Linked DNA regions of Homo sapiens: region 2 is linked to region 1. Evidence: fine-mapped expression QTL. Tissue or cell type: whole blood. Region 1 holds a variant in brackets; the other region holds the start of a gene. All regions are shown on one strand. Distances are between the middles of the regions.

Region 1 (16,328 bases):
AGCTCTGATCCTCGAATGTTCGGGGAGACTGATTTGAGTAATAATAAAACTCTGGTCTCCTGCACAGCTGGCTCTGCATAAATTACTCTTTCTCCTTTGCAATTCCCCTGTCTTGATAATTGGCTCTATCTAGACAGCAGGCAAGGTGAACCTGTTGGGTGGTTACAGGACCACAAGTGCATGCCACCATGCCTGGTTCTGGTTTATTGATCTTTGAGGGAGGAATTAACAGGAAGCCAGAAAAGTGTCATCAATTATAAATAAGTCATTTAAATGAAATGGCAACTGCATGCAGCAGCAGCAGCAGCAGCAGAATCCCTCCCTTTACATCTTTCCATATGATAACAAATCCTAGAAGACTATTACCATGCTAGAGGTATCCCTTTCAGGGTGAGACAAATTCCCACCTCTATAGACAATTCCTGGTCCTATGAGGTCCCTGCACAAACAATGTGTGAGGGCTGAAGAAAAAGTGGCAGTCAGCGGGGGTAAAATGTAAAATAAGCAGAATTGCACCTAAGCTATTATGGACACCTCTTCCCACTTCTCCTTCTCTATCCCCCTTCTCCCCGACACCCCAGATCTTTAGTTAATGGCAAAACAAACATCTCCATTCTTTATTCCTCTTGCTTCCATGGGCATAAAGGATTTGTGATGTATTCTAGGCTTATAAGAATGAGGATGAGAGAAAAAAGAATGAAGATGGAAGAGAAAAGAAAAAAAATCTCAATGTGAGGATATAGCAGTATAGATTAAAAGCACTAATAGAGTTACTAAATGTAACTAAACCAGTATTTTAAAGCAATCAAGTTTGTGGTGTTGGACAATGAGATGATTTAACAAATCTTTAAATTTAATGATAGCCCCTCTGGTGGGACCTCATACTTTAGGCTCTAAACTTCTTGGGAATCTATGAATTATAGCTACATACACTAAGTATCCTCCTGAGAGACAAAGCTGTAATATGCTCTAACTTGCATTTTTTTTTTTTTTTAAGAGACAGGGTGTGGCCGGGCGTGGTGGCTCATGTCCGTAATCCCAGCATTTTGGAAGGCTGAGGTAGGCAGATCACTTGAGCTCACGGGTTTCAGACCAGCCTGGGCAACATGTCAAAACCCCGTCTCTACTAAAAATACAAAAATTAGCCCAGTGCGGTGATACTCCTGTAGTCCCAGCTACTCAGGACGCTGAGGCAGGAGAATCGCTTCAATCCGGGAGGCAGAGGTTGCAGTGAGGTGAGATCGTGCCACTGCCCTCCAGTCTGGGTGACAGAGGGGAAAAAAAAAGACAGTCTCACTCTGTTGCCCAGTCTAGAGTGCAGTGGCACCATCATAACTCACTGCAGCCTCAAACTCCTGGGCTCAAGCAATCCTCCCACCTTGGCCTCCCAAAGTATTGGGATTACAGGGAACTACCATATCCGGCTATATGCATTCTTTTACAGTGTACTTCTTTAGAGTAAGGACTACTTGACATATTTATGGGCCATAATTAAAGGCCAAAATTTCTGAAACAATTCATCCTTATAGTGATTAATTTGGAACACTTGTTAAAGATGTCCCTCAAGCTTTAGTAAATCATTTTCTTGCAAAATCTGGCATGAATTTTGGGGCTCAGCCACTGAAATGGTCTTTGATCTGCTTTTTGGCTGGGGAGCTATTTCAGCAGAATAGAAGGATGGAGAAGAGCTGCACTCTGACCCCTAAGGCCAGCGCTGCTTCACTCACATAAAGCCAGCTGCAAAGGTGTCGGATAGCAAGGGCGCTCCGCCTCCATATGCAGAGCTTGTTTCTCCTAACCAGACCTTCTTGCCAGGCCTGGTGCTCTCAACCACCTATAGAACAGAAAAGTATCCATGGTAATTGCAAAAAAGCTGACCTGTGGTTTCAACTGTGGTGTTGAAGATTAACAGCATTCAAAACTTTGTATTCCTAGACCCACCCCTCCTATATAGTTATAAAATATGTTCATAGTCATTTAGGTCTTGGGAAACTTTCTTTTATTGAAATAGTAGGCTGTGGAAGGAACATGAAGTGAACCAACCCATTCTTATCATCTATGTGAGTTAATTCTACTAAAGGCTATTGGAAATATTTCAAATTTCTAATCACGTACATGGGGTAAGACCCAATGCTAAGGGGAAAACTAACAGTGGATAAGTCATAGTGCTTGTTCTCTAAAATTAGAAAAACATGTAAATATACATACCTATAGAATTTAGAACTAGCTAGACTATAAAATAAGGATTCTGGTTTTACATTAAAAAGTTTAAAAAGACTATTACCTGGAAAACTTTTTGCACAGATGAAATAAAAATGTCCAATACATCAGGGTTTAGAAAATCTTCCTTGGTAGCAGTCCGTCCATTCAAATAGTAGCTAAATTACACAGAAAATATTCAGAAAAAAAATAACAAATTTTACTTTCTGCTTTTAGGTTAATTGCTGACCTTATTCTCCTTCTTACCTCTCCCACTCACCTGTTACTAAAAAAAGGTAGAAGTTCTACTAGGGAAAGACCAAGATGGAAGGGAGTTATGAGGAGGAGTCCATTCTATGCAAGTAACTAGAAATCAGTTACTCTGTCTTGAAAAAACACAGTGGCAAGTACATGTACTCCTGGGTTACTGGTTCTTTGGCAAGCAATTGGTTTTAGCTACTTATATGTTCCATGGGTTAATTGGCACTGTTCTTCTGTATAAAGTGATCTTTATAGAAACCACTACATTATTTAAAATAACTTTAAATTTTTTTTATTAATATTAAAATTGGAGTACAGTGCTACTTGAGACACTATTTGTTTCTTATTTGAACTGCAGTCAATTGGCAGTTAAATGAACTAACTTTTTGAATACTAGGTAATAAATAAAGCTAGCCTTACTTTCCTAGTATTAAGAATAGGAGACATACTTACTGATGCCATGTAACTGAATCAATCACTTCTCCACCAGCCTTCAGGAAGCTAGAAAAAAAATTTTATTATCACTCAGTCATATAATACATATATATGCACAATATACGCATGAGAGTTTTATTCCCTAGAAATGGGCTGGTTACTGCTTTAGGATCAGGTAAACACAAACTTCCTAATTTTGATAGCAAATTTTATCATAGGTGACATTTGCCTCAGATCCCTTGATATTCTGAACCCGTCAAAATTTCCTTTTTTTGGTAAATCATGTATTCAGGCAGCAGATTGTTTAATAACATGTGGACTATTGAGGATTGTCTACCAGAGAGAATCTTTTTTTTTTTTAAGAAAAGTGGTGGCTGGGTGTGGTGGCTCATGCCTGTAATCCTGGCACTCTGGGAGGCTGAGGTGGAAGGATGGCTTGAGCACAGGAATTCAAGAGACCAGCCTGGGCAACACAGGGAGACCCCATCTCTACAAAAAAATTTTTTTAAAGTAGCCAGGTGTGGTGATGTGCACCTGTAGTCCCAGCTATTTGTGGGACTGAGATGGGAGGATTGCTTGAGCCTGGGAGGTCGAAGTTGCAGTGAGCCATGATTGTACCACTGCACTCCAGTCTGGCTGACAGAGTGAGACTCTGTCTCAAAAGGAAAAAGAAGAAAAGTAAAGTGATTCTGCATCCTCTAGTTCCTACCTCTTCAGCATCTTAGCCGTCTTTCTTCGAGGCTGACCAACATCAGGACCATAGAGTTTTGCATTTTTGAAGGTGGACTTTCTTAGAAGTTTATGCAATTGAATAAAATCTTCTCCTAACTGCGACCCATTGATGAAAATATCAGCCTTCTTAAGGAAACTGTTAGGTTCTGAAAGACAGCAATTCTCAAAATATATATCGAGAAATGTTGTATTTAAAAGCAAACATATAGCAGTATTTAAAAGCAACAAAACATTTTCCAAATTACAAAAACTTGTAATTCAAAGTCAAGAAAAGTAAAACCAGGTCTGGCGCTATGGCTCATGCCTGTAATCCCAGCATTTTGGTAGGCTGAGACAGGAGGATCCCCTGAGGCCAGGAGTTTGAGACCACTCTGGGTAACATAGTAAAGCCCTGTTCCATGGGGAAAAAAAAAAATTAGCTAGATGTGGTGGTGCATGCCTGTAGTCTCAGCTTGGGAGGCTGAGGGAGAGGATCACTTGAGCCCAGAAGGTCGAGGCCATAGTGAGCCATGATCACGCAACCGCACTCCAGCCTGAGTGACAGAGCAAGCGTCTGTCTCAAAAAATAAAATAAATAAGTAAAGTAAAACTCAAAGTTATAAATAAGATACTCCAGAAAAACAAAACAAAAATTTTAACTGTATAACTGAGATATGAGGGTCTATTAAACAATTTGAAGTTAATAATGAGGGTAATAAACCAATGGATATGGATATCTGGGAACTAGACTATATTCCATATCTAATAACTTCATTTACTTTGGAAAAAAAGGTTTGAGACCGGGCACAGTGGCTCATGCCTATAATCCCAGCACTTTAGAAGGCCGAGGCAGGAGGATTACTTGAGGCCAGGAGATCGAGACAAGCCTGGGCAACACAACCAGACAAAAGAAAAAAAATTGGCTAGGCATAGTGTAGTCCTAGCTAATCAGGGGGCTGAGGTGTGAGAGATTGCATGAGCCCAGGAGTTGGAGGTTACATTGAGCTATGAACACGCCACTGCACTCCAGCCTGGGTAACAGAGCAAGATCTTGTCTGAAAAAAAAAAAAAAAAAAAAAAGTTTGAGCAGGAAGAAGACTTGTGCTTATCCTATTACTACATTTCATTTCCCATTTAATCCTTATTTCCATTGGCTGATATGTGGAAAAAGCACTCTATGTTTTGAATAAATGTGGCGAATCATGAATACTTATAGTTAAAATTTACAAGTTCTTTGCAAAAAAAGAGTGAAGAAGGAGACAGTCAGGAGCTTGACCCACGTAGGATTCTATACTGGCAAGTTCTAGACCGTTTGGGCAGGTAATGAAGGTTGCAATGGGGTTACTGAGATTAACTGACACATTTGAGAAAATGAGAAAGGAAGGGATGAATAAAACAAACTGCTGACTTCCCAGTTTTGCTGAGTCCAGCTTGCCAAGCATAATAGGGTTAAGTGATTCTGAAAATCTCAAGGGAACTTTGGAGCTGGGAACGTTGCTGGCTCCAACTGGTTCTCACTTCAAATGTAACATAAACTGGGATTAGCAATAATAGGTTCTGGAATAAATACAGTAGGAGTTTCTGCCACATGCACTTCCAAAAGTTGCATTGTTGAGCACTTGCAAGAATGTGCCCAGGCAGAAGTATATTTGCTAATAATAAAAAGAGTGTTGGCCGGGCGCAGTGGCTCACGCCTGTAATCCCACCACTTTGGGACGCCGAGGCGGGCAGATCATGGGGTCAGGAGATAGAGACCATCCTGGCTAACACGGTGAAACCCCGTCTCTACTAAAAATACAAAAAAATTAGCCGGGCGTGGTGGCGGGTGCGTGTAGTCCCAGCTACTCGGGAGGCTGAGGCAGGAGAATGGCGTGAACCTGGGAGGTGGAGCTTGCAGTGAGCCGAGATGGCGCCACTGCACTCCAGCCTGGGCGACAGAGCGAGACTCCGTCTCAAAAAAAAAAAAAAAAAAGTGTCATAAGAAATAATGCTAGCCGGGCCTGGTGGCTCACGCCTGTAATCCCAGCACTTTGGGAGGCCGAGGAGGGCAGATCACGAGGTCAGGAGATCAAGACCATCCTGGCTAACACGGTGAAACCCCGTCTCTACTAAAAATGCAAAAAAAAAAAAAAAAAAAAAAAAAAAAAAATTAGCTGGGCGCGGTGGCGGGTGCCTGTAGTCCCAGCTACTCGGGAGGCTGAGGCAGGAGAATGGCGTGAATTTGGGAGGCAGAGCTTCAAGTGAGCCGAGGTGGCGCCACTGCACTCCAGCCTGGGCAGCAGTGCGAGACTCTGTCTCAAAAAAAAAAAAAAAAAAAAGAAAAAGAAAAGAAAAGAAATAATGCTAGTGGGGGATCTCCTTATTAATGAATTGTTCCCTGGGGTACTCACCATTGCCTAGTTCCCAAGAAATGTTATACCCCTTGGAAGAGCAGTAGTCCAGGAGCAACTGAGCATTAGAACTGTTCCACTGCAAATCTGCTGTTCTTAATAACGCATTTAGGCCAAAGATCAAGTCCAGTCCTGAGCAGTTTGCAAAAGTGTATAGCACATCTACAGAGCTTCCTAAAAGAAAAACGTCACAATTTAATGGTTAGATTGGCACCACAATGAAGGCCTCCAGATTCGCTTTTCATAATGAATAACTATTTCTGTTGTTAAACTGAAGAAATTCTAGTTCTAATAAATGATTATAATTATGTTTTTGAGACAACAAAATTGGACAAATTAAAAAAAATCAATCTGACTTCATTTGCTCCAGCTGTTGAATGAAATCCCATGGAAGATACCAGAAGCTCTGGTCTGACACTTAGGTTTTGTTCAAGTGACATCAGGAGAATTGGGGAAGCCACAATTTATAGCTCAGTGCTCCACATGCATAGCCAGACTGTCATTAGTTAGCATAAACCCCACTCTTCATAATCTAAATATCTCTAGTCACAAGTTCAGTTAAAAAATATTTTGATAATTTTAATTATATTTAAAACAATTTTTAAAAAAATTCCTGTTATGATTTATTAATTTAAAATGAATCAAATTTTACATTAAAAAATTGGCCTAGAGTTATAGGACTATGGTTTCCAAACTCTGTGCAAGGCAAGCTGGGGAGCACCAGTGAATGCATGGGTACAGCTACAGGATTTAGCAACTAAAAGTGCAGGGCACCTAGTTAAACTTGAACTTCATATAGACAATAAATAATGTTTAGTGTATGTCCTATGTAACCATTAAGAAATACTTCGCACAGGGGCCAGGTGCAGTGGCTCATGCCTGTCATCCTAGCACTTTGGGAGGCCGAGGCGGGCGGATCACTTGAGCCCAGGAGTTCAAGACCAGCCTGGGCAACATGGCAAAACCACATCTCTACAAAAAACACAAAAATTAGCCGGGCATGATGGTAAGCACCTGTAGTCCCAGCTAGCTACTTGGGAGGCTGAGGTGGGAGGATCACCTGAGCCCAGGGAGGTCAAGGCTGCAGTGAGCCATGATCATGCCATTGCACAGCAGCCTGGGCAACAGAATGAGATCCTGTCTCAAAAAAAAAAACAAAAAAACAAACAAAAAAAAAAGTAAAGAAAAGAAAAATAATTAACATGAAAAAAATTATTTATCTGAAATTCAACTCTAACCAGGCAGTGCTATTTACAGAGGCACTGTAGGATCTTTTAAGTTTGCAAGGAAAAAAACATCAACATCTATTGGACAGCATTACTATTGGACCTATTACTATTAGGTTGTGTAGACCTTACAATTTAATAATCAAAATACAGGTATTTTTTGTGGCCTAGGCATGCTTTAAAAAGTTTTCTGCGATATTAAGGTGCCATAAGTTTGGGAACTTCTGTACTCTGCTTTTTAAACCATTAGCTGTTCTATTACCACTTTTTGAGAGTGGCAACAATATAATTTTAAGTGTTGTCTTTAAATTGATTATCATATGCATAATAAGTCCTTCCAATTTTCATGTATATCTATAGTCGTTTGTTAAAGAGTAATTCATTCCTGAACTCTTGTAGTTAAAAAAGAAAGATCTCTATCTATCTGGCAAACTTACACCCTTTCTCCTTAAAAGTGGCTTTTTGTTTTGTTTCTAAGTCTTTGGCCTGAATTACTTGAATAACTATAGAATAATATTAAATATTAGCTATTTAAGCTGAGTGCAGTGGCTCATGCCTGTAATCCCAGCACTTTGGGAGGCTGAGGCAGGTGGATCACCTGAGGTCAAGAGTTCGAGACCAGCCTGCCCAATATGGTGAAACCCCGTCTCTACTAAAAATACAAAAATTAGCTGGGTGCAGTGGCATGCACCTGTAGTCCCAGCTACTTGGGAGGCTGAGACAGAATTGCTCAAACCCGGGAGGTGGAGGTTGCAGTGAGCCGAGATTGTGCCACTGCACTGCAGCCTGGGTAACAGAGCAAGACTCTGTCTCAAAAAAAAAAAAAAAAAAAATTAACTATTTAATATTAACTATAAAGACCACTAGGCAGAAACAACTCTTGCAAGCTGCTTTAGGTATTTTGATATTTGCTGTGTCACCCACTTCCATAAACTGCTGCCTACCATCAAGGAATGACAGACATTTGGGTTTGAAAAGCTCTCTAGAGTCCTGTGACCCAGCATTCTACTGGATCTTAGAGCCACAGTTTAAGGCAGTATGGAGGCTTTAGGATCATCAGCCTATGCTTAACCTCCACCCTCATTTTTCTAGGAGGAAACTGAGATTCAAATAAGGTAAGTCTTTGCCCAATATCACGCAGCCGTTTGGTGGCAGTACCATTACTAGAGTCTGTTACAAGGGGTGAGTGACCTGCTTTAGTCACACATTATAGGCTTTTATATTGCAAAATCATGTTGTAGGAAGTGCCCTGGATCAGAAATCATAAGACTTGAGCTCCAGGCACAACTCTCCCACTTATAGACTATAATATGAACAGGGGTAATATCTTTGCCCGACAGGAACCTCAGATATGGATCTAAAGTCCTGGGACAAGCACCATCACATGCCTTCGCCATAAAACCAAGGTTGAAATGACACATGTGAAAACTGTCTGTAAATCACAAAAAACCCTTACAGCTAAATAGCACTTTGTACTAGCCCTGAACAAAGATTATAGCATTTTCAAAAAACCTGGAATGCTTGCACTCATACTTTACCCTTCCTCCATTTCTTCATTCTTCCAAATGCACTTGGAATTTACATAGCTCGAAATTCTATTATACACCCCCTATAACATAATCAACTGTAACATCTCCTGGAATAGAGGCTATTGACGACTGAGTTCAAATCCATTCTTTTTTTCTTTTCTTTTCTCTTTTTTTTTGAGACAGAGTATTGTTCTGTCGCCCAGGCTGGAGTACAATGGCATGATCTTGGCTCACTGCAACCTCCACCTCCCGGGTTCAAGTGATTCTCCTGCCTCCACCTCTGCAGTAGCTGGGACTACAGGTGGACGCCACCAAGCCCGGCTAGTTTTTGTATTTTTAGTAAAGATGGGGTTTCACTGTGTTGGCCAGGCTAGTCTTGAACTCCTGACATCAAGTGATCCACCTGCCTCAGCCTCTCAAAGTGCTGGGATTACAGGCGTGAGCCACCACGTCTGGCCACATCTACTTTAAAAAAAAAAAACAAAAAAAACAGAAGGACCACCTAGCCTACTCCTTACTCAAAATACGAAGAACAATTTAAAACTTACAATTCATTATCTTATTCCCAATCCTTTCCAGACTCTCATCTCTTACTGTATAAAGAGTGGAGAGATCCTTGGAATGAAGATAACCAAGATGACACATTGAAAAAAATGGCAGATCTTTCCCTTGGACTGTACCATGTAAGTCTATGTCAGCATCCAATGTGGGCCTGGGTGTAGGCAACGGAAGAATGGGGTGATGAGGGGAACAGGAGGAGAAGAGGAAGTACAAAGAGTTAGCTCACTCAGGATGACTACTTTAATAAGGGAGTCATCCTTTCTGCAGTCACACCCGGAATTACATCTGTAACACTGCTTC[C/T]TTTTCCTGCTCAAACAGGTTTAAAATGTGAGTCTATATTCTCATGACAAATGTTTTTGTCATCTTCTACTTAAGTGGAACGCACCATACAAGAGGACCTGTGTTAGAAAACTTACCTGTATCTTCTGGGACACCCGTTTTTTTGTTGTTGTTGTTTTTTGTTTGTTTGTTTTTTGTTTTTGTTTTTTTGAGACAGAGTCTCACTTTGTCGCCCAGGCTAGCGTGCGGTGGCGCAATCTCGGCTCACCACAACCTCTGCCTCCCAGATTCAAGTAATTCTCCTGCCTGCCTCCTGAGTAGCTGGGACTACAGGCGCCCGCCACCATGCCTGGCTAATTTTTGTATTTTTAGTAGAAATGAGGTTTCACTATGTTGGCCAGGTTGGTCTCGAACTCCTGACCTCAGGTAATCCACCCGCCTCAGCCTCCCAAAGTGCTGGGATTACAGGTGTGAGCCACAGCACCCAGCCTGGGACATGTGTTTTAAGGGTGCAGGCCACTAGCTAAGCAATGAACATGTCCTTATCTCAGCAGCCTTTTGCTACCTCTTCTTTTGTGGTATGTCCCCATGTCACTCAGCCATTACCAGTCTCAGCCACAGGTTCAGAACAATTTGTGGAATCCCCTATTAGCTTCTGAAATATTTGTCACTACAATGAGTAGGTGCCCAAACTAAACACAGAAGATTTCTGTTTCCATGACGTGCCCATGAAAACTGAAAATTTCGAGCCAGAAATCAAATGTTTACAAATGCAAATAAAATTCTGTGTTTGTTGTACCTTTTAGCATTGCCAACAGGGTGGCTGGACTTACACTAACTAACCTGGTTGCATAGTTAGCAAAGGAAGGCATTTCCCCTGGTGTAGGAACTATGAAAGCCAAGTCCTGGAGTTGGAAACCTACCATTTTGGTAACAGAAAGATCCTGTAAAGTAGTAAAACTTTCTTAGAAATGTAAGATACATTGGTATAATGTTTAATGCGACCCCCCAAGACTCACCTATATCTTCCGGGACATGTGTTTTAAGAGCAAATCCATTAATTACCTAATACAACTGGGTCTTCTCCTAGCAGAGCTATAATGATTTATTACAAATGTGGCCTTACTTCTGTGGTTCTCTGGTATGTGTCATTCCTTTAATGGGATCTGAAATGGCCCTGCCTCATGCCAAATTCCAGTCAATAATTAATTACACTTATTAAAGTGTCAGAGTAGATCGCCCTCTTAAAAATGCAAAAAAAAGTTTTTTAGAGGACAACATTAGCTATTAGCATATGCGCTATTTTTTGATTTCTTATGGAACACATTTTTTTCTGTACCATATACATAAAAAATGTACATAAATTTGAAATCCATCTGATACATTGAACTCCAGGTAGTATACAGTAAAATCTTACAAAGATAATTAATTAAAATAATATACTTTAAATAATGTTAACTAACCCAAACAAAGTATAGTAACTTCAAGATCATTTATTTTCAAAAGTCAAAAGAAGAGCTTGAAGTATCTGAGCAGGTTATTTCTTTAACTGAGATATGGGAACATCATCCCTCAGTGGGGTATAAACATCAAACTTCAGATAAAAATATATTTCATAGTTAAAAAAGGATTGTGGCCAGGAGTGGTGGCTCACGCCTGTAATCCCAGAACTTTGGGAGGCTGAGGTGGGTGGATCACCTGAGGTCAGGAGTTCGAGACGAGCCTGGAGCCTGGCCAACATGGTGAAACCCTGTCTCTACTAAAAAATACAAAAAATTAGCCGGTCGTGATGGTAGGCACCTGTAATCTCAGCTACTCAATAATCAATAATATGATCGGGGGTAATACCTTTACCCTACAGGAACTGAATAATCAAATATTCCTCATAATGAATAGGAGGCTAAGGCAGGAGAATCTCTTGAACCTGGGAGGCGGAGGTTGCAGTGAGCCAAGATTGCGCCATTGCACTCCAGGCTGGGCGACAAGAGTGAGATTCCATCTCAAAAAAAAAAAAAAAAAAGGGGGTTCCTTGTTTCACTTGCTTTAAAGCCCCATGTGACAATGTCATCCTAATTTGAAGACTGGAAGACTGTTTTAGTGACTGAAAACATACTAATGGGTAGCTGAGCTAGCCCTGTGTTTGCAAAAGCCACAGAGGAAACAAAAAGAGAATGCTGCTTGGTGGCCAAGACTGTCTGGAGTGACTCAGGGCCCTCCTGCCTAATGCTCTAAACCAAGGCATACTGGGGGTTATTTCTGGGAGGGGGACGGACCTCAAGGTATGAATGATGTTCATGTTTTGCCCTTTATATGTCTGTATTTTAATTTTACATGAGGAATATATTCATGTTTTCCTTGACTCCGTAGTTTTTTAGAGCACTGAAGGTCATTGTTAGATCATGAATGATTGATTTATCTTTCATTCTGTGACTACTAAGCAATGTCAGATGAAGAAAAAACAAACAAAAAAAAAACCAAAAAGCAAGTTTTGAGTTTAGGATTTCCCATTTGGGAAATGCTTCAGTATTTTCAGCTTTATACAACTTCCGTAGGACTTGCTAGATTGGTGCCCGAGTCCAACCTATTCAAATATCTTTGGGGCTGGAACATCTCTAGGGTGCCTTTCATTTCTTACTTGAGTAGGTGCTGTTCTTGAACTTTTTCTGGTAGTGTTCTCGGAGTAGCAATTGCTCCTGGTAGGGCCATTCCAACCGTAACTTCTCCTCCACATCAGGAGGGATGGATCCATATTTGCAAATATCTGCAAGTGGAAGAGATCATTTAGAAGGTCTGTTTTCACAGTGAGCAGACTGAAATCGCATATATTTATTTAGTTAGCTATTTATGTGACTAAAGCAGGATAATTAAGTTCTGGTTATGAGGTAGGAGAGCAGAGAAAAGGTATATTCTGTAACACATGTCAAATTTGCCGGCTCATGAATTACCACAAAGAAAACAACCAAGGGCAGGTTTCCTAAGAAATATTGAACATACACTGAACATGGATATGTTGGACATAGCTACAAGTTATTTAACAATTCAAAGGGCTCCTCAGAAGCTTGAAATTACTGGCCGGGTGCAGTGGCTCACACCTGTAATCCCAGCACTTTGGGAGGCTGAGATGGGCGAATCACTTGAGGTCAGGAGTTCGAGACCAGCCTGGCCAAATGGTGAAACCTCGTCTCTACTAAAATACAGCTACTCAGGAGGCTGAGGCAGGAGAATCACTTCAACCCACGAGGCGGAGGTTGCAGTGAGCCGAGATCACGTCACTGCACTCCAGCCTGGGTGACACTGGGCGACAAAGCGAGACACTGTCTAAAAAAAAAAAAAAAAAAAAAAGCTGGAAATTACCAGAGAACTCTAATGAAGAAAACATAGTGCAGTTCTCTTAAGGTTCACTTTCAAAATCCATAGCAATTTGTTTTACATGGACTGTATCTGCAGTGTGGTGTTTTCCTCTTGCCATCATGGGAGGTAGGATGGGTGGGAACCGTTGACTTTTTTTCGCTTTGAATTTGGTACCATCAGAGCTTCTGGGACCACAACATGTGCACTTGAAAAAATCCACCCTGGTCAGGCACAGTGGCTCACGCTTGTAATTCCAGCTCTTTGGGAGGCCAAGGCAGATGGATAGCTTGAGCTCAGGAGTTTGAGACTAGCCTGGACAACATAGTAAAACCCTGCCTCTACTAAAAATACGAAAACTTAGCTGGGCGTGGTGGTGTGTGCCTGTGGTCCCAGCTACTCGGGAGACCGAGGTGGGAGGATGCCTTGAGCCTGGGAGGCAGAGGCTGCAGTGAGCCAAGATCCCGCCATTGCACTCCAGCCTGGGCGACAGAGCCAGACCCTGTCTCAAAAAAAAAAAAAAGAAAAAAGAAAAATCCACACCATCCTGTCAGGCAGACCATTTCTTTATCACAAGACAGCAGGGTTGCCGGGTGCTGGCTGCCAGGGCCGGCTGACTGGCTGATGACTTCCTTTCTGGAAAGCTGCACACTGACTCGCTGGCGGCTGGTGCCTCATCCATCCCTGGGCTCACAGAGGATGTTTCAGAGGAACTTGCATAACCCCAGTTTCCCCCACCGACCATCCCCCTAGACACAGGATGAAGAAAACTGATGAGCAAAGGACAGTTTCCTGTCTACATTTATGAGATCTTTTGGACACAAATGACTGGTGGGAAAGGGCCAAGTCTAAATAGAAACTAGGTTGGGTGTGGTGGCTATGCCTATAATCCCAATACTTTGGGACGCCAAGGCAGGGGGATCACTTGAGTGCAGGAGTTTGAGATCAGCCTGGATAACATAGAAAGACTGTCTCTACAAAAAATAAAAAAATTAGCTGGGTGTGGTGACATGCACCTGTGGTCCCAGCTACTCAGGAGGCTAAGGTGGGAAGATTGCTTGAGCCCAAGAGGTCAAGGCTGCAGTGGGCCATGCTTGTGCCACTGCACTCCAGCCTGGGCAACAGAGTGGGACTCTGTCTAAAAAAACGCCCCCAAAACAAAAAACAAACCCATAAACAACTCCAACCTGGTATTCAAAGATAACCCATCTGTCTTTTTCTATTTTCTCTGATTACTATTCTGTCAATTTAGCCCCAATTACTGATGAATTGTTCTAAATACTTCATAACTGGATAAAATAAACAGAAGGAAAAGATATAATATATGAAATAATCAAATATTCCTCATAATGAATATATACGTTATATACACATTATTATAATTCAGTGGTGTATACAATATTTTCAGTATTTTTTTCTCTTTAAATTATTAAAAAATAGAGACAACGTCTCTCTATGTTGCCCAGGCTGGTCCCGAACTCCTGGGCTCAAGTGATCCTCCTGCCTCAGCCTCCCAAAGTGTTGGGATTACAGGTGTGAGTCACTGCGCCCATCCTAGTAATTGTTAAGATACGATTTAACTTCCATTTGATGTCTGATAGCACTTCTGAAAGACAGGACAAATTTTCATGGCCCCCTAGGGCAGGTTTCTCAGGTGAAGGCCACAGCCTTTCAATATCAGAATCCCCTGACAAGCTTGCTAAAATCAGAATCTAACGTTGGAGCCCAGAAGTCCACAGATCTCGTTCACCCATATTCTATATTTAGAATAAATATCCTTCAATCTATCATTGTGTCTTTGGCTAGAAATGCTCTTTAGTTTGACGCGATTCTACCCACTTGCTCCCTCCAAGCAGTTCTATCCTTCAGCTACAATCACTGTTTTATTAATATTTACTGTACAATGAGCTCTCAGTTATATCCAGGACGCCTTTTTTTTTTTTTTTTTTTTGTGAGGCCTCACACTGAACATGACAAACATCATGATAAGGAAACCTGCCCACTGCCTCCTCCTCTTGTTCAGATTCCTCCACAGGTCAGATGAGGGGAGAGGAAGTTAATCTCATTAATTGTTAGGTGTGAGAAATAACAGTTTTCTCAAAGCATTCTCATGACGGACTGACGTTAATTAAAATATAGAGTGAATCTTTAAAAATTTTCACCCTGGTTGACTTGAGATTGCCAGTAACTTCTCTCTTCAAAGGTTGATTCCTTCTTGGGATCGAAAATTAGGAAGTCTGTCTTGGTGCCACCAAACCTCAGGTACGCAGGAGACAAGCCTCTGGCCAAGGTACGAAGCTTTGGAGAACTGTTAGGAAGACAAGCAAGAAAGTATAACTATTTTTTCCAAGACAATCTAGTCAAACATTCTTACTTCCTTCTTTCCTGGTGGACCTATTTCTTAACATTTCCCTGTGCAGGACTTAGAGGAGGAAATCACATTGTTTTGTTTTTGAGACAGAATCTTGCTCTGTTTTCCAGGCTGGAGTGCAGTGGCGCGATCTCACTTCACTGCAACTTCTGCTTGCCGGGTTGAAGCAGTTCTGCTTCTGCCTCCTGGGTAGCTGAGATTACAGGCAGTATTGTTTAATTTTTATTTGTTTTCTTATTGGGCATGATAGAAAGGGAATCATTGTTTAAAAGAGGAAGCATCTCAATCTGAATCTAATTGAAGGACTGATCTTCTAGGAACCTGAGGGCAATTTGTAGCTCTAATTCTGGCAAGAGCTTGTTTGTGTGTGTGTGTGTGTGTGTGTGTGTGTGTGTGTGTGTGTGTGTGTGTTTGTGTGTGGAGGGATGGGGTCTTGCTATGTTGCCCAGGCTGGTCTCAAACTTCTGGCTTCAAGTGATGCTTCTGCCACAGCCTCCCAAAATGCTGAGATTACAGGCATGAGCCACTGTACCCAGCCAGGAGCTTATGTTTTAACTTGACAAGTAGGATGGTGTTCAACACTTAAAAAAAACTCATAGCCTTTTATGATGGATGGGGAGAAAGAAATGATAGAATAGAAACTAAGGGAAAGACAGCTCTGTGTCTGTCTGAAAAATAGATCGTCCGAAACTATGGGACAGTAAAAAGATCAGCGGTTACCAGGGGCTGGGGGTGGAAATGCAGAGAGGGAGGGATGAATAGGTGGAGAACAGGGGATTTGCAGGGCACTGAAAATACTCTGTATGTTACTATAATGGTGGATACATGTCATTATACATTTGCTCAAACCCATAGAATGTACACCGACAGTGAACCCTGCCGTGAACTATGGACTTTGGGTGATAATGATGTGTCAGTGTAGGTTCATCAACTAGAACAAACACCTCTCTGGTGGGGATGTTGATAATGAGGGAGGCTATGCATGTGTGTGGGCAGGGGGTTTATGGGAAATCTCTGT
Region 2 (16,328 bases), 26 kb before region 1:
AGTATAGTTCACAAGGGACAGAGGAGTAGCTGATCCTATCCTCCTAGGCTAGAGAAGAGAGAATACCACTTCACAGCTATTATTTCCTGGTACAATTAGAACAGAAGGTTCCACTAAAAAGAAAAAAATTCTAGACAGAAAGACGTGTAACCACTTATAGTGTTTTCTGTCAGGAACAAAACTTCCTTGGCCAAAAATCTGTATTAAAAGTACCGTATTCACTTACTGATAGGAATCTGTAGAGCTCCCCTACAGATGACAAGGGTTCCTACAGTGAAGGGGAAAGTAAGAAGACTTCTCAGTTCTATGTCTGCCACTTGTAAGTTGAGTGACACTAGACAGTAAAGTATCTTAAGGCTTAAGTCTTTGTTTCATCTGTAAATGAGGGAAGAGAACAGCTACCTCACAGAGTCGTTAAGAGATGACAATATTAATGATGTTATGACAACCGTAATAACAGATACATGGCACTTACTGTACCAGGTGGTTTCACAGAACACTTTTGACTCTCACAACAAGCCTATTCGATAGGCACTATTTTTATTACAACCATTTTACAAATACAGAAACTGACGCAGAGAGGGAGTAATTGTGCCCAAGACCACACAGGTAAAAAAAGGCTAAGGTGGTATTCCAACCCAGACAGTCTGGCTGCAGTCTGTGTCCTAAGTCCAATGCTGTCACTCTGTACTCCCTAAATCTCTCCATACACTTCAGTTTCACCTGTTCTTTTGTCCCTACTGATTCCTAGCAATGTTTTTTTTTTTTTGTCTTCCATATGACACTTTCATTCCCCATACTTTTCTGTGAAGAAAGACGCAGAGGTAGCAAAGACAAGAGACAAGTAGATTGCAAAAAGAAATGTTTTTGTAGAAAAGGGAAAAACTCTATGGGAGATGAAATAAAATGAGCAAGTTCTGAGGGGTGATGGACAGATCAAAAACAGATGATCTTCAAGACAACATAATCACCCATAAACGTGGTAAAACAAAAAATTACACTTCCAATTTGGTGGAAAGAGTGCCACCTGCTGACACTTTCTGGAATAAGGTAGTTTAGCCCATTTGAAAGAAGCTGTATTGCCTTCTCAAAAACAACGAAAACCTACTATTGATCAATGAAGGTAACAAGATATAACTTCAACAAAGTAAAACAACGAACACATAATTATCCCACAAAATAAGAATTTAAATAAAGAATTATCAAACCTGGAATTCTACTCCTGTCAATTATTGTTTCTGGCATATGGTAGGGGTTCAAAATACATTTGTTGAGCGAATTCTAACATAGTACTATTTAGTTTTCTGAAAAATCCTGTAATGATCACCTTATTTAGAACCAAACCATGCAGGCTGGTATCTTCCAAACATACACAATCTGTAAGTACAATTTTCTCCATTCCCCACTTCTAAGATAATAATGGCTATTTCTTCAGCACATATTATGACAGGCACTGTTCTAAGCACTTAACATATATTAATGAATTTTCGTGACCTCATAACGTCCATATTATCATTAATAGTATCTTCATTTTACAGATGAAAAACGGATGCCCAGAGAGGTGAAGTAATTTATCCAAGGTCCCTCAGATGAGCAGGGTGGAGGTTCACATCCAAGAGGTTTGGCTCCAAAGTTTTGCTCATAACCCCTTTGTTGCCTTCTGTTACATGGCGGAAGGTCCAGCCACTAAGATAGAAGCCAGAGGTTTAACTGGGGAAATGGGAATAATGGCAGATGTTCATCTATAAGGCTACACTGCCACTCCATGCCACAGACTCCAAGAACAGAATTACAGCCAGGCTTCAGATTGGAACTGGGCTTGGAAATGCATGCCTCTCAACGTGAATGTGGCCCCAAAACTCATGGGGGTCATACACAGCTTCCCAATGATGGCAGGGCTGTACCTATCATTCAGTAGGCTTTTATGCTTTGATAGCTGATTGTTATAACTTAGTGCTCTAATCCCAAATAGGTCGTGCATAAATCTAGAATACCAAAAGCAAGGCCTAATTCGGGTCTTGTACGGGCAAAAGTGGAGTAAATGTACCTAGGCCTTTGACTACATCTCCATACACTGCAATGGCAAATGTCATCATCTAGATTGGCTGGAGTTCATCCTTCACTTCTTCCTCCACGCTATCCAGCTTCTTCAGATATGTTCTTGTCTAGTCTCGTTTCCCATTTTCCACACCCACTTGGTGTTCCAGGTCAGGCTCGTATTCTTAGTGTTCTAACACTCCACCCTTGGGTCTTTGCAAAAGTACTTCCCGCACTAAGATCTCTTCCCTCCTCTGCAAAATCAACTTGTCCTTTGGAGTATAATTTCTTCTCGAAACTTTCCAGCAAGGGATCCACAGTAATTTCTCTTTTTCCTGTAGCACTTGCTTTTGTATCACTCATATTTGATCCATATTTTCCTAGCTCACCAAATAGTCTTTTTCAACTAGACCAGAGTTCCTTGAAAGCAAAGGGTTTCCATAGCTTTTTCTATCTCTATGGCCGGACAACGTAGTAGGAACTTATTAATTCACTTAACACTACTGGAGAAGCCAATCAATCAACAAGCGCATAAGGTTAGTTAGTGGTGAGTGCTATTAAGAAAAATTGCGGATAAAGCGATAGAAAGTGAGGTTGGTAGGTGTTAATTAAGATAGGAAGGTCAGGAAAATCTTTCTGTCGGGGGCGATTGTAAGCTGACAGGCAGTCCGTAAGCGCTGTCCCTGCTGCGTTCAAATGAATTAAATCTTTGCCTTATGGGTGATGCAGGTAAAAGAGCTCCGACTCAGCATCAAAACACAGAGTTCTTCTGGTCTGGCTCTGACGAGGAGCCTTAGTTTCCTCAGCGTCTTAACTGTCTTAAGGATTGTCTTTGTGGGCCTTACAAGATTGCGGGGAGGATCAAACATTCTAATAAATGAAGGAGGGCCACGAGAACGGAACCTTCCGCTTGAGTCACCATTTAAACAAGTGTTTGTGGAATGAGAATTATCTTGCCCGCTTCAGGTGCTCAGGATGCAGACAGACGTGAAACTGGCGGGTCCTTTAGGAGACTGTCCCGACTGCGTGTCCTGAGGTGACTCGCCCCAGGGCGCACGGCAGCCGGCAGCCAAGCTCAAGCTTTCAGGCTCTCATTTCAAAGTGTCCCGAGGTGATTCGCCCCAGGGCGCACGGCACCCGGCAGCCAAGCCCAAGCTTTCAGGTTCTCATTTCCATCACGCCCCGGCCGGCCGCCGCGGACAGCTCCGCGGAGCCGACTCGGAGGCTGCTACTTGCAAATTCCCGGGCTGCCCGCCCGCCCGCACTCACCAATGGGCTTGTCCAACCGCATGAGGCGCAAGTACGGCTGCAGGGGGCGGGGCGCAGAGTCCACCACCGCCGCCGCGGACAAACTGAGCTGGCGCCCGCGCGGCTCGGGACAGGCGGGGGGCTGCAAGTCACCACCGTGGGGCGCGCCTGCCGCACGCGCCAGGGCGAAGGAGCGGCCCCGCCAGCCCGGCAGCCACGCCAGTGCCACAGCCCGCAGGCCCCGCGCGAACCCCGCGGCTCGCGAGCCCAGCATGGCGCTGGTGAGGCCGGGACGAGCTCGGATTGACGTCATTCCCCGGCAGGCATGCGCAGTGGCACCCGCAGGATGCAATCCTAGTCTGCCAGGCTGGGCGGCGGTGTGGGCAGAACCTTTCCTCATCCTTACTTGTGAAATTGGGGTCATCGTGGTCGCTTACTCTAGGGAGGAATACTTAATGAAAAAGGGATTTCTATTGGCAAAAGGCAAAAAAATTACAATAAATTTAGTTGTAATTTTTTACAACTCGATCTTGATTGACTTTGTGGTTCCATTATCGGGCAACACTCAGAACGGGGTCTCTGAGGAAACAAACAAAAAATAGAATCGGGCAACACCTTATTCTGTAAAATAGAATAAGTGTTCCAAAGAGTCGAGCGGAGGAAGTTGGCTTTATAGACAGAAAAAGGGCTGAAGAAAGCAGAAGCAGAGAACAAAAAGCGGATTGGTCACTTCAAATTACTTTCATTGCGAGGCGGGGACAGGGAAACAACAACAGAGAAATAACGGATTGGTTAACATTAGGTTACACCAGGTTAAGGACTAAAACAGGAAACTTAATTGTCATGACGATTGCATTTTGAAATGGCCTGGTTGGAAAATTGGCTGTTGTCTCTCTTTCCTGACTTCTCAGAATGTCAGATACAACTTAGTTTTAGTTTGGTGACTTGGAACTTTAGCATGGGTGACTCTTGATTCTTAGTCTGATCTGTTGGGACCTAGTGCAGGAACTTAGTTCAAAACAATGGCCCCCTATAATTTAACCCTATTATCAGCTTTCTCCATAAAATGAAAAGGATAGTGTTTATTCATATGGAACAGTTGTACCAGGAAAAAAAAAAAAAAGCTTTGAAAAACCTACTGAATCCAAAAGAAGAATTTGCGTACACGTTTAGCCATAAAAAAAAAAAAGGGCACCAAGTGGCCACATACAAGACTGTAAATTAAAATCGCATTCAGGGTTAAGGGATGTTCATTACACAAGTGAAAATTTTAAATTTGACAGCCCTTCAAAGGAGTTTTTGTAATCAGTAGACAACCAGCATGTGTGATGCTAAGAACCTGAAGCTGAAAAGTCTGGTCAGCAGAGTCTTGCTCTGTCATCCAGGCTGGAGACCAGTGGAGGGATCATGGCTCACTGCAGCCTCCACCTCTTGGGCTCAATCGATCCTCCCATCTCAGCATTCTAAATATCTGGGACCACAGACACGAGCCACCGTGGCTGGCTAATTTTTAATTTTTCATAGAGAGGAGGTCTCACTATATTGCCCAGGTTGGTCTTGAACAGCTGGGCTAAAGAGATCCTCCTGCCTCAGATGGTCAGTACTCTTATTCATAAGCAACTCTGTATATCGCTGTGTGCCAGGCACTTTACATGTATCAACTCATTTAACCTCTCACTGAGTAACCCTAGGCAAGTCACTCATCTGGATTTTAATATTCTAGGAAGTTGACTTAGTCTTTAGGCTCCTTTCTGTAAAACATGTACAATGATTCTGTGACTTCTTGCATGGCTCAAGTACAGCAAGTTGGATGCCTGGCCACTTTGGTGCAATGAGGCAGGGGGTACCTAGCCTTTCTCCTGCCTGCAAAGAATAAAGGCCAGCAGGCAATTTAGTAACACTCCTAGTTGTTAGATTGGAGATGATTTAGATCTGACTCAAACCTGAAAAGGGTGTAATATCAGTCATGTATTGCATCCATGACTTTCCAATATAGGTCCAAACTCTTTGTTTAAAAAAATATATTAAGAATTTCAAGATGGCAACAGCAGGACATTAAACCAAGTACAAGGTCCTTCTTAGCGTAGGCCCTGGGTGACTGCACATGTACCCATGATGCTGACCCTGCCCAGAGGTGATTCAATCCTAAGATATTTGGTCCAATTAAAGTGCACAGGAAACTGAGATGGGTACCCACATGTCACTCTGCTAATTTGTAGGACAAGAGAACAGTCACATAGAGTAGAGCCCTAACTTTCAGGAGTCTCCTCTAGACTAATGCCAAGGCACAGTATGCCCTTGGGAAAGCCATTTAACTGCTGCAAACTCTTCAGAAAAGGAAGGGACTAGGCTTTCTCTAAAAGGGCCTGTAAGGCTCCGATTCCTCATTTTGTTTTTTGTTTTTTTTGAAGTGACTTTCTTTTTTTTTAAAATTTTATTATTATTATACTTTAAGTTTTAGGGTACATGTACACAACGCCAATTCCTCATTTTGGATTGGGCAGGAACTCATTTTGTTTTAAACCTATTACCCACAGGAACTGAAATGGTTAATTTTACATGTCAATTTGGCTAGGCCATAGTGCCAAAACATTTGGTCAAAAATTATTCTGGCCAGGCACTGTGGCTCACACCTGTGATCCCAACACTTGAGAGACCCAGGTGAGAGAATTGCTTGAGCCCAGGAACTCAGGACCAGTCTAGGCAACATAGTGAGACCTCATCTCTACTAAAAATTCAAAAATTAGCTGAGAATAATGGCATATGCCTGTGGTCTCAGCTACTTGGGAGGCTGAAGTGGGAGGATTGCTTGAGCCCCCGAGGTTGAGGCTTTGTGAGCCATGGTCATGCCACTGCACTCCAGCCTGGGTGACAGAGTGAGACCCTGTCTCAAAAAAACAAATAATAAACCTCTCATCTTTTTTATGGTGGCCAGAAGAATGAATTACAATGACTGACAAGGCTTTGGAAACAAGACAACCCCTCCCCACATCACAAGGACTGAAAAAGGTAATCAAATAGATTTTGCAGTATGTTCGAAGGTGGTAAGTGGTATGGAGAAAAGAAGAGTAACAGGGAAAAGTAGGGACAGGCTGTATGTATACTTAAATATGGTAATTGGGGTGGTAGGACAGCCCTGATCTCACTTTCTCAAAGACTTGAAGGAGATAAGGGAGTAGCTATGAGAGATCTGAGGGAAGAATATCACTAGATACTCTTAGAGGGATGTCTAGTGCAAGGGCCCTAAGATGGGAGCAAGCTTGAAGTGTTTTCTTAATAAGAGCAAGGAGGCCAGTGTGGATAGAGTAGAGTGAGCAAAAGGGAGAGAGATCAGGGATGAGAGCAGAGAGGACTAGGGACCAGGTTGTGTGGGGTCTTACATACCGTGGTAAGGACTTTGGCTTTTCTCTAAGTGAAATAAGAGGGAGCCATTGGAGGATTGTGAACAGAACAGAGACATGACCTGACTTCTATTTTATTTTATTTTCCTCTCATAGTTCTTGTCTCATACTGACTTATATTTTAAATAATTACTCTCAATACTGGGTTGAGAGTAAACTGTAGGCAAGCAGTGAGATAAGTAGGGATATTAGTTAAGAGGCTTATGAAGCTCAGGTTGGTAGCTTACACTTGTCATCTCAACATTTTGGGAAGCTGAGGCAGGATTGCTTGAGCCCAGGAGTTCAAGACCAGTCTGTGCAACAAAGTGAGACCTCATCGCTACAAAAATCTTTAAAAAAATTAGCTGGGCTTGGTGGTGCACTCCTTTAGTCCCAGCTGCTCAGGAGGCTGAGGTAGGAGGATCACTTGAGCCCGAGCGGTCAAGGTTGCAGTGCACACCACTGCATTCTGGCCTAGGTGACAGAGCAAGACCCTGTCTCAAAAAAACTAGACAAGTAAACCATTATTCTGGTTGTTTCTATGAAGGTGTGATATGGTTTGGCTGTGTCCCCATCCAAATCTCATTTTGAATTGTAGCCTCCATAAATTCCCATCTGTCATGGGAGGGACCCAGTGGGAGGTAATTGAATCATGGGGACAGGTCTTTCCCATGCTGTTCTTAAGATAGTGAACAAGTCTCACAAGATCTGATGGTTTTATAAAGGGGAGTTCCCCTACACAAGTTCTCTTGCCTGCTGCCACGTTAAGATGTGCCTTTGCTCCTCCTTCAACTTCATGATTGTGATGCCTCCCCAGCCATGTGGAACTGTAAGTCACTTAAATCTCTTTCCTTTATAAGTTACTCAGTCTCAGGTATGTCTTTATTAGCAGCATCAGAACAGACTAATACAGTAAATTGGTACTGGTATAGTGGGGTGCTGATGTAAAGATACCCGAAAATGTGAAAGCAACTTTGGAACTGGATAACAGACAGTTTGGAGGGCTCAGAAGGCAGGAAGATGTGGGAAAGTTTGGAACTTCCTAGAGATTTGTTGAATGGCTTTGACCAAAATGCTGACAGTGATATGGACAGTAAAGTCCAGGCTGAGGTAGTCTCAGATGGAGATGAGGAACTTGGGAACTAGAGCAAAGGTGACTCTTGCTATATTTTAGCAAAAAGACTGGTGGCATTTTGCCTCTGCCCTAGAGATTTGTGAAACTTTGAACTTGAAAGAGATGATTTAGGGAATCTGGCAGAAGAAATTTGTAAGCAACAAAGCATTCCAGAGGTAACTTGGGTACTGTTAAAAGCATTTAGTTTTATGTATTCACAAAGATATGGTTTGGAATTGGAACTTGTGTTCAAAAGGGAAGCACAACATAAAAGTTCAGAAAATTTGCAGCCTGATGATACGATAGAAAGGAAAAACCCATTTTCTGAGGAGAAATTCAAGGGGGCTGCAGAAATTTGCATAAGTAATGAGGAGCCAAATGTGAATCACCAAGACAATGGGGAAAATGTCTCAGGGCATGTCAGAGGTCTTCATGGCAGCCCCTCCCATCACAAGCCAGGAGGCCTAGGAAGGAAAAATGGTTTTGTGGGCCAGGCCCAGGGCCTTGCTGCTTTGTGCAGTCTTGGGACTTGGTGTCCTGCATCCCAGCTGTGGCAAAAAGAGGCCAACGTACAGCTCAACCCATTGCATCAGAGGGTGCGAGCCCCAAACCTTGGTGGCTTACATGTGTTGTTGTGCCTGAGGGCGCACAGAAGTCAAGAAGTGATGTTTGGGGACCTCTGCCTAGATTTCAGAGGTTGTATGGAAATGCCTGGATGTCCAGGCAAAGGTCTGCTACAGGGGCAGAGCCCTCATAAGAGAACTTCTGCTAGGGCAATGCAGAAGGGAAATGTGTGGTGTGGACCCCCACACAGAGTCCCCACTGGGGCACTGCATAGTGGAGCTGTGAGAAGAGAGCCACCATCCTTCAGACCCCAGAATGGTAGATACACTGACAGCTTGCATTGCACACCTGGAAAAGCTTTAGTCAGTTAATGCCAGCTCATGAAAGCAGTCAGGAGAGGGGCTGCACCCTGCAAAGCCACAGGCTGGGGCTGCCCAAGACCATGGGAACCCACCTTTTGCATCAGTGTGACCTGGATGTAAGACATGGAGTCAAAGGAGATCATTTTGGAGCTTTAAGATTTGGCTGCCCTGCTGGATTTCAGATTTGTATGGGACCTGTAGCCCCTTCGTTTTGGCCAATTTCTTTCATTTGGAACAGGTGTGTTTATCCAATGCCTGTACCTCCATTGTATCTAGGAAGTAACTAATTTGCTTTTGATTTTATAGGCTCATAGGGGGAAGGGACTTACCTTGTCTCAGATGAGACTTTGGACTGTGGACTTTTGAGTTAATGCTGAAATGAGTTAACACTTTGGAGGACTGTGGGAAGGTATGATTGATTTTGAAATGTGAGGACATGAGATTTGGGAGGGGCCAAGGGCGGAATGATACTGTTTTTCTGTGTCCCCACCCAAATCTCATCTTGAACTGTAGCTCCCATAATTCCCATGTGTTGTGGGAGGGACCCAGTGGGAGGTAATTGAATAATGGGGGTGGGTCTTTCCTGTGTTGTTCTCATGATAGTGAATACGTCTCATGAGAACTGATGGTTTTATAAAGGGGAGTTCCCCAGCACAAGCTCTCTTGCCTGCCACCATGTAAGATGTGCCTTTGCTCCTCCTTCAACTTCTGCCATGATTGTGAGGCCTCTCAAGCCATGTGGAATTGTAAGTTAATTAAAGCTCTTTCCTTTATAAATTACCCAGTCTGAAGTATGTCTTTATTAGCTGCATGAGGGCAGACTAATACAGGGTGTTTTAGGATGAAATTAACATTTAAATTGGCGGATTTTGAGTAAAGCAGATTGCCCTCCATAATGTGGGTGGGCTTCATCCAATCTGCTGAAGGCCTGAATAGAACAAAAGACTGACCTACCTCAGGCAAGAAGGAATTCTCCCAGCAAATGGCCTTTGGACTTGGACTTCAACTGCAACATCGGTCCTTTCCTGGGTCTCCAGCCTGCCAGCTAGCCTACCCTGCAGATTTTGGATTCAGCAGCCTCCATAATTGCTTGAACTAATTCCTTAAAATAAATCAGCTGGGCGCAGTGACTCACACCTGTAATCCCAGCACTTTGGGAGGCTGAGGTGGGCGGATCACCAGGTCAGGAGATTGAGACCATCCTGGCTAACATGGTGAAACCCCATCTCTACTAAAAATACAAAAAAATTAGCCGGGCTTGGTGGCGGACGCCTGTAGTCCCAGCTACTGGGGAGGCTGAGGCAGGAGAATGGTGTGAACCCGGGAGGCAGAGCTTGCAGTGAGCCGAGATTACGCCACTGCACTCCAGCCTGGGTGACAGAGCAAGACTCTGTCTCCAAAAAAAAAAAAAAAAAAACTCTTTATATCTTTATATATATCCTATTGGTACTGTTTCTCTTCTCTAGAGAACGCTAATGCAGAAATGTTGCACCTAGTGGATGGAGAATAAATTCATTCATCCCACAAATATTTGTTTAAATGGTGCGTCAACCAGAACATTCATTCCACTTTACATGTACCCTTCATTTTAGCAGATTTACATGTTTGAAGCACTTCTACATTCATATTTTTCGTCTCTACTATGTTTCATCTGATTTTTGTGGTTGGCCCTAGAGAAGGTGTTTTAGGTTTAAACAATATTTATTGGTCAGGTGTGGTGGCTTATGCCTGTAATCCCAATACTATGGGAGGCTGAGGCAGGCAGATCACTTGAGCCATGGAGTTCAAGACCAGCCTGAGCAACATATCAAAACACTGTCTTTACAAAAAATACAAAAATGCATGGTGGCATGCACTTGTAGTCCCAGCTACTAGGGAGGCTGAGGTGGGTTGAGCCCAGGAGGCCTAGGCTGCAGTGAGCCATGAGCATGCCATACCACTGCACTCCAGACTGGGTGACAGAGTGAGACCCTTTCTCAAAAAAAGAGAGAATAGAAAAGAAAATATTTATCGTTTGACTCCCAAATGAGACGTTAAAGTGACTTTCAAGCTTAACAAATACAATCATTAACTATAATTGCTTCCGGCCTTAAAATAATTTTATGTGAAACTGGTGTTCTTTGTAGAAATTGTAATTGACAATAATGTGACTATAAAATGATAGCTGATGAGAAATAAGAGAATAATAAGAGACAAATTTTGGGAGGCATCCCCTACAATTCTTGGTAGTGCTGGTGGAACTGAACGCTCATTGCCCACAGCAGCAAACTCAACAGCAAAAATTAATATTGGTTTTTTCTTCACTTCCCTCTCACACTCCCTGTTCTTTCATTCCTTATTCCCAAATAACCCACCTGACCCAAGTCCTTGTCTCAGACTGTGCATTGGAAAACCCCCACTTCTGATCCTGATAGTATAACAAGGGGTGAAACAACACACTAGTGGTTCTATATCCTGTTTCCAGGTATAAACAAAGCAGTGAAGGAAAACAAGGCTTCCAAATGTAGGAGTCTGTAGGCTTTACATTACTAAAAGAATAGTCATACAATATCAAGATTATAAAAATTACTTTATTTCAAATGTGAAAATATAAAAACCACTTACATATAAAATTTAAGAGTATTGAAAGATCTAAAATTTAATTTTCAGCTTTAGCTCCTTACAAATATACTTAAATTGAATGAAATTGAATGGAATTAACCTAAGTGTCCATCAACTGATAAGTGGATAAAGAAAATGTGGTATATATGTACCATGGACTATTACTCAGCCATAAAGAAGAATAATGTATTTTGCAGCAACTTGGACGGAACTGGGGGCTGTTATCCTAAGGGAAGTAACTCAGGAATGGAAAACCAAATACTGCATGTTCTCACTTATAAGTGGAAGCTTAGCTGTAGGTACACAAGAACATACACAGTGGTATAAGGGATGTTGGAGACTCAGAAGGGAAGAGGGCGGAAGGAGGGTAATGGATGAAAAATTACCTATTGGGTACAATGTACATCACTCAGGTGACAAGTACATTAAAAGCCGAGTCTTCACCACTACACAATTCACCCCTGTAAGCAAAAAGTGTGTACCCCTAAAGCTATTAAAATAAAAAATTTTAAAGATACTATATCCATAACAGGCATACATTTGAAGAATATTAATCCTTAAGAGGGGAAAATAATTACATTTTTTCACTGGTAAAAAGCGCAGAACTGCAGTGTTCAGTTTGTAGACTGACCAACACCCTCTCCATTCCAAAGGGTTACTCAGAGACAATTATAGGAACCTCGTTGTTGTTGGCAGTGACTGGTGAAATGGCCACATTACCCATTTCTGAACAATAAGACATGAGGAGACATGAGGAGAGGTTTGCTGTGAGAAGCTCTGAAAAAGAGTTATTCAAGTCTATGAAGGAGACTCAAAAAATGGCTCATTTTCTTCCTCTGGTTGCTATGAGGTTTGAAGGGGCCCATGAAACAGCTACAGCCATCATGCTACCAGAGTCTGAGAATGAAGCCAGCGCTAAAGATGGCAGAGCAGAGAGCTGGGAAGAACCCAGATCCCTGGTGACGTACTGAAGTGCTGGAGCCTGGCCTGTTTGAACGTCTAGTTATGTGGGAATATACATTTCCTTATTGCTTAAGCCATTTGAATTAGGAGTTTCTGTTACTTGCAGCCAAAAGCTTCCCAACTGAAACAAGGAAGAAAGGTAGAGAAAAAGCAAGCATTAACAGACAGTTATAAGGTATTGGGTGTTTTCTAAAATTTATCCTCTTGACAAATCAATTTCATTTATAGTAATTTTAAGTTTACAGAATCTCCTCGCCTCTGAATTGTCATTAACCATTTTTTATACTATCATATCTAACAATCTGTCCTCTCACATATTATTGCTGACAAAGAAAACCGAAAGAAGAAAATCAGCAAAATCTAGCTGTCTTTTAAGGTGCAAATAGATAGTTTCTCTTTTACAACCAGTTTCACGGTAACGGCAGTATGCTTTTTCTGATGGGTGCCTGTAGAGATGGCACATGAAGGAAAGAATTCTAAAATCTTCTAATACATTTTGAAAGATAAATATACAGCTAAGCACCTTCTTAAAACTCATAATATATCCTTCGCTTCCTTGCTTCCTGACCATATTAGGAGCATTCATATACATTTTTAATAACTTGTTTTTTTGAGATGGAATCTCTCTCTGTCACCCAGGCTGGAGTGCAGTGGCACAATCTCGGCTCACTGCAACCTCTGCCTCCTGGGTTCAAGTAATTCTCCTGCCCCAGCCTCCCAAGTAGCTGGGACTACAGGACCACACCCAGCTAATTTTTGTATTTTTTAGTAGAGATGGGGTTTCACCATGTTGGCCAGGCTGGTATCAAATTCCTCACGTCAGGTGATCCATCTGCCTCGGCCTCCCAAAGTGCTAGGATTACAGGTGTGAGCCACTGCGCCCAGCCATTTTTAATAACTTTAAATAAAGACTGGTTGTGGTGGCTAATCGCTGTCCCCACAGGTATTATAGTCTTTCGCTGACTAGCAACACTGCACAGAGGTAACATCAAATGATCTCCTGCTGTACCATGCTGTACTCCCAAAGAAATCCCAGCACCTGGAAGGCCAAGGTGGGAGGATCAATTGAGTCCAGGAGTTCAGGACCAGTTTGGGTAACATAGCGAGACCCCATCTCTACAAAAAATTTTTTAAAAATAGCCAAGTGTGATGGCATGTGTCTGTGGTCCTAGCTACTTGGGAGGCTAAGCAGGAGGATGACTTGAGCCCAGGAGTTAAAAGGCTGCAGTGATCTATGATTGCACCACTGCACTCAAGCCTGGGCAACAGAATGATACCCTGTCTCAAAAATAAAACACTGCTGGGTGTGGTGGCTCACACCTGTAATCCCAGCACTTTGAGAGGCTGAGGCGGGTGGATCACTTGAGGACAGGAGTTCGAGGACAGGAGTTCGAGACCAGCTTGGCCAATATGGCGAAACTCCATCTCTACAAAAAATATAGAAAGTAGCTGGGCGTGGTGGCACACGCCTATAATCCCAGCTACTCAGGAAGCTGAGGCAGGAGAATTGCTTAAAGTTGCAGTGAGCCAAGATCGCACCATGGCACTCCAGCCTGGGTGACAGAGAGAGATTCTGTCTCAAAATAAATAAATAAATAAATAATAAAACAAAACAAAACTTTAGATAAAAGTAAAACATGCAAAATGCTAAGCAGTATTTGGAACAAGGTATTATTAGCTATTATTATTAGCAGTGTTCTACCTAGCGAGATCAAAATACTGTGCTAAATCTAGCACTGACAGTGTCCCAGTGTCTCTCAAGCACCCACTAGTTGCTTTGCAAGGTATCTGCTTCCTTTCCTATAACTTGAGTTGCTTTACTCTTAGTATACTTGAAAAATTCAGTGTCAGGACTAGTATATTTTATTTTCAGATGCAAGCAGCAACTTTGGCATTTCTTATCACAAAAAAACTATATGAGAAAGCTGGCAAGCCCAGTGAACTTCCTGGCCGGAGAGGTTTTTCCATTAAAGGTGGCAAGGTTTGATCATCCACCATCTTTAGAGTTAGACCATTGAGTTGGACAGATCTGCAAAGGAGAAAGATACACCGAGTTAACCAAGTGGTGCATGCCCCACCCATGCTGCTACAAAAGTCATGAAATCTTTTTTAGACCAAATAAATTTTTTTTTGTGGCAGCCTATATTATATAACTTGTATTTCAACACTATATCACTTAGGCATTTGACCTAGATAATCTTTAAGCTACAATGGCAGGGATGAGTAGTTATGATAGAGACCATATGGACTCCAAAGCCAGAAATACTTACTGTCTGGCCCATTACAGAAAATGGAACACACACAATCTATATACTAGGCAATATGATGGTGGTATAAAAAGGATAAACATGACACAACTTCTGGAATGGTGGCTATTTTATTTAATGGCCAATAATTGAAACCTTTTTTATGTAAAGAAAATAGATATATAGAATTGAATGCAGTTTTTATGAATTTAGCATAAATGGTAGCCAATGAAATTTCTCACTTGTAACTATGCCCATAAACTGCCTAACTCCCCTCTCCCTGCAGGAGGTATGCATTCATTTTCTTACTGTTATTAAGAAATTTTGGTAGAATGCTGTGGTGAAACAAAAACAATTTGGCTAAACTACAGAAAATTTTATATTTTCTATGTATTTCACTATTGGAATTCAAATTAAAAACTGTTGAACGTTCTTAAAAATTAAGGAAAAGTGTTATTTCTTATACATACTTATTATTTAAATCAAATTAATGCATATTCACAGGAGCGAATCAATATAGGCAAGAGCTTATGAAGAAAAGCTTTAGTCGGCTGTAGGTCTATTGATATTTTCATAATTCTAAATAAGATGCTTATATCTCTTTTTCTCAAATATGTTTTATATTGTCAACAAAGTTAGCACTCTTTAAATATTGAAAACTTGTAAGATTAGGCCGAGCACAGTGGTTCACACCTGTAATCCCAGCACTTTGGGAGGCTGAGGCAGGCAGATCACTTGAGGCCAGGAGTTCAAGATCAGCCTGGCCAACATGGCAAAACTCCATCTCTACCCAAAAATACAAAAATTAGCCGGGCATGGTGGTGTGTGCCTGTAGTCCCAGCTACTCAGGAGGCTGAGACATGAGAATCGTTTGAACCTGGGAGGCGGAGGTTGCAGTGAGCCGAGATTGCACCACTGCACTCCAGCCTGGTAGAGCAAGATTCTGTCTAAAAAAAGAAAAAAAAAAAAAAGAAAAGAGAACGTATAAGATTAGTTACTGTCAGAGTTATATTTATATCATTTAGGTAATACATGTAAAGTATGTAGAACACTTATAACAGTGTCTTTTATATAGTAAACACTATAAAAGTATTATCTATCATCATTATTATTACTAAGATAAATAAAAGTAACCTAAGTCATTATAACCATTTTAAATATTTTGATGTATATTCATTCTTTCATCTATTTTTTGTGTACATGTATACAGTCATATGCCACATAAGGATGTTTTGGTCCACCATGGACCGCATATATAAGTGTGGTTCCATAAAATGATAAAATTATAATTCCTATTGCCTAGCAATGTCATAGTCATTGTAACATTGTAGCACAACACATTAGTTTTCTATGTTTTAGATATGTTTAGATACACAACTACTTAACACAATGATAGCTTGCCATTGTGTTAAGTATTTGTATATTCGCTACAGTAACATGCTTTACAGGTTTGTAGCCTAGGAGCAACAGGCTAGTCATATAGCCTAGATACATAGTAGGCTAGACCATCTAGGTTTGTGTAAGTTCACTCTATGATGTTCACACAAGGATGAAATCACCTATCGACACATTTCTCGGAATGTATCCCCATCATTAAGCAACACATGACTGTACATACCTTTTTTTTTTTTTTTACTTAAGTATGGGTATACTGTATTTTCTTAAAACTTGATTCTTCCCCCCACCCCAGCACATCCTAACTTTTTCTCACACCATTAAACATCCATCCACTACATAATTTTAATGTCTGCACAAGATTCCATGGTGTGAGTATATTAGTTTATTTACTTAATTCTCTAATGTTAGATATTTT

What was found.
Region 2: it holds the start of COQ2, and the variant in region 1 is fine-mapped to the expression of COQ2 in whole blood (TOPMed, PIP above 0.99). The same link has a PIP of 0.9 or more in neutrophils.

Annotation. Positions count from the first base shown.
Region 1 is chr4:83,307,118-83,323,445 of GRCh38, forward strand. HPSE (heparanase) reads right to left here. Exons shown (of 12, transcript NM_001098540.3): 2 at 15,102-15,247; 3 at 12,227-12,352; 4 at 5,997-6,170; 5 at 3,605-3,773; 6 at 2,914-2,961; 7 at 2,285-2,378; 8 at 1,728-1,834. It overlaps LOC105377313 (a long non-coding RNA gene), which reads left to right and starts at 6,977. Exons shown (of 3, transcript XR_938944.2): 1 at 6,977-7,002; 2 at 9,331-9,434; 3 at 9,631-9,722. RefSeq lists enhancers at 8,960-10,159, 16,019-16,313 and a silencer at 14,282-14,475. The variant C/T (reference allele first, on the strand shown) is at 9,613.
Region 2 is chr4:83,281,206-83,297,533 of GRCh38, forward strand. COQ2 (coenzyme Q2, polyprenyltransferase) reads right to left here and starts at 3,593. Exons shown (of 7, transcript NM_001358921.2): 1 at 3,307-3,593. The coding sequence starts at 3,559. HPSE (heparanase) reads right to left here. Exons shown (of 12, transcript NM_001098540.3): 12 at 11,256-14,298. The coding sequence ends at 14,139. RefSeq lists enhancers at 2,996-3,235, 3,431-3,725, 7,810-8,310 and a silencer at 3,296-3,625.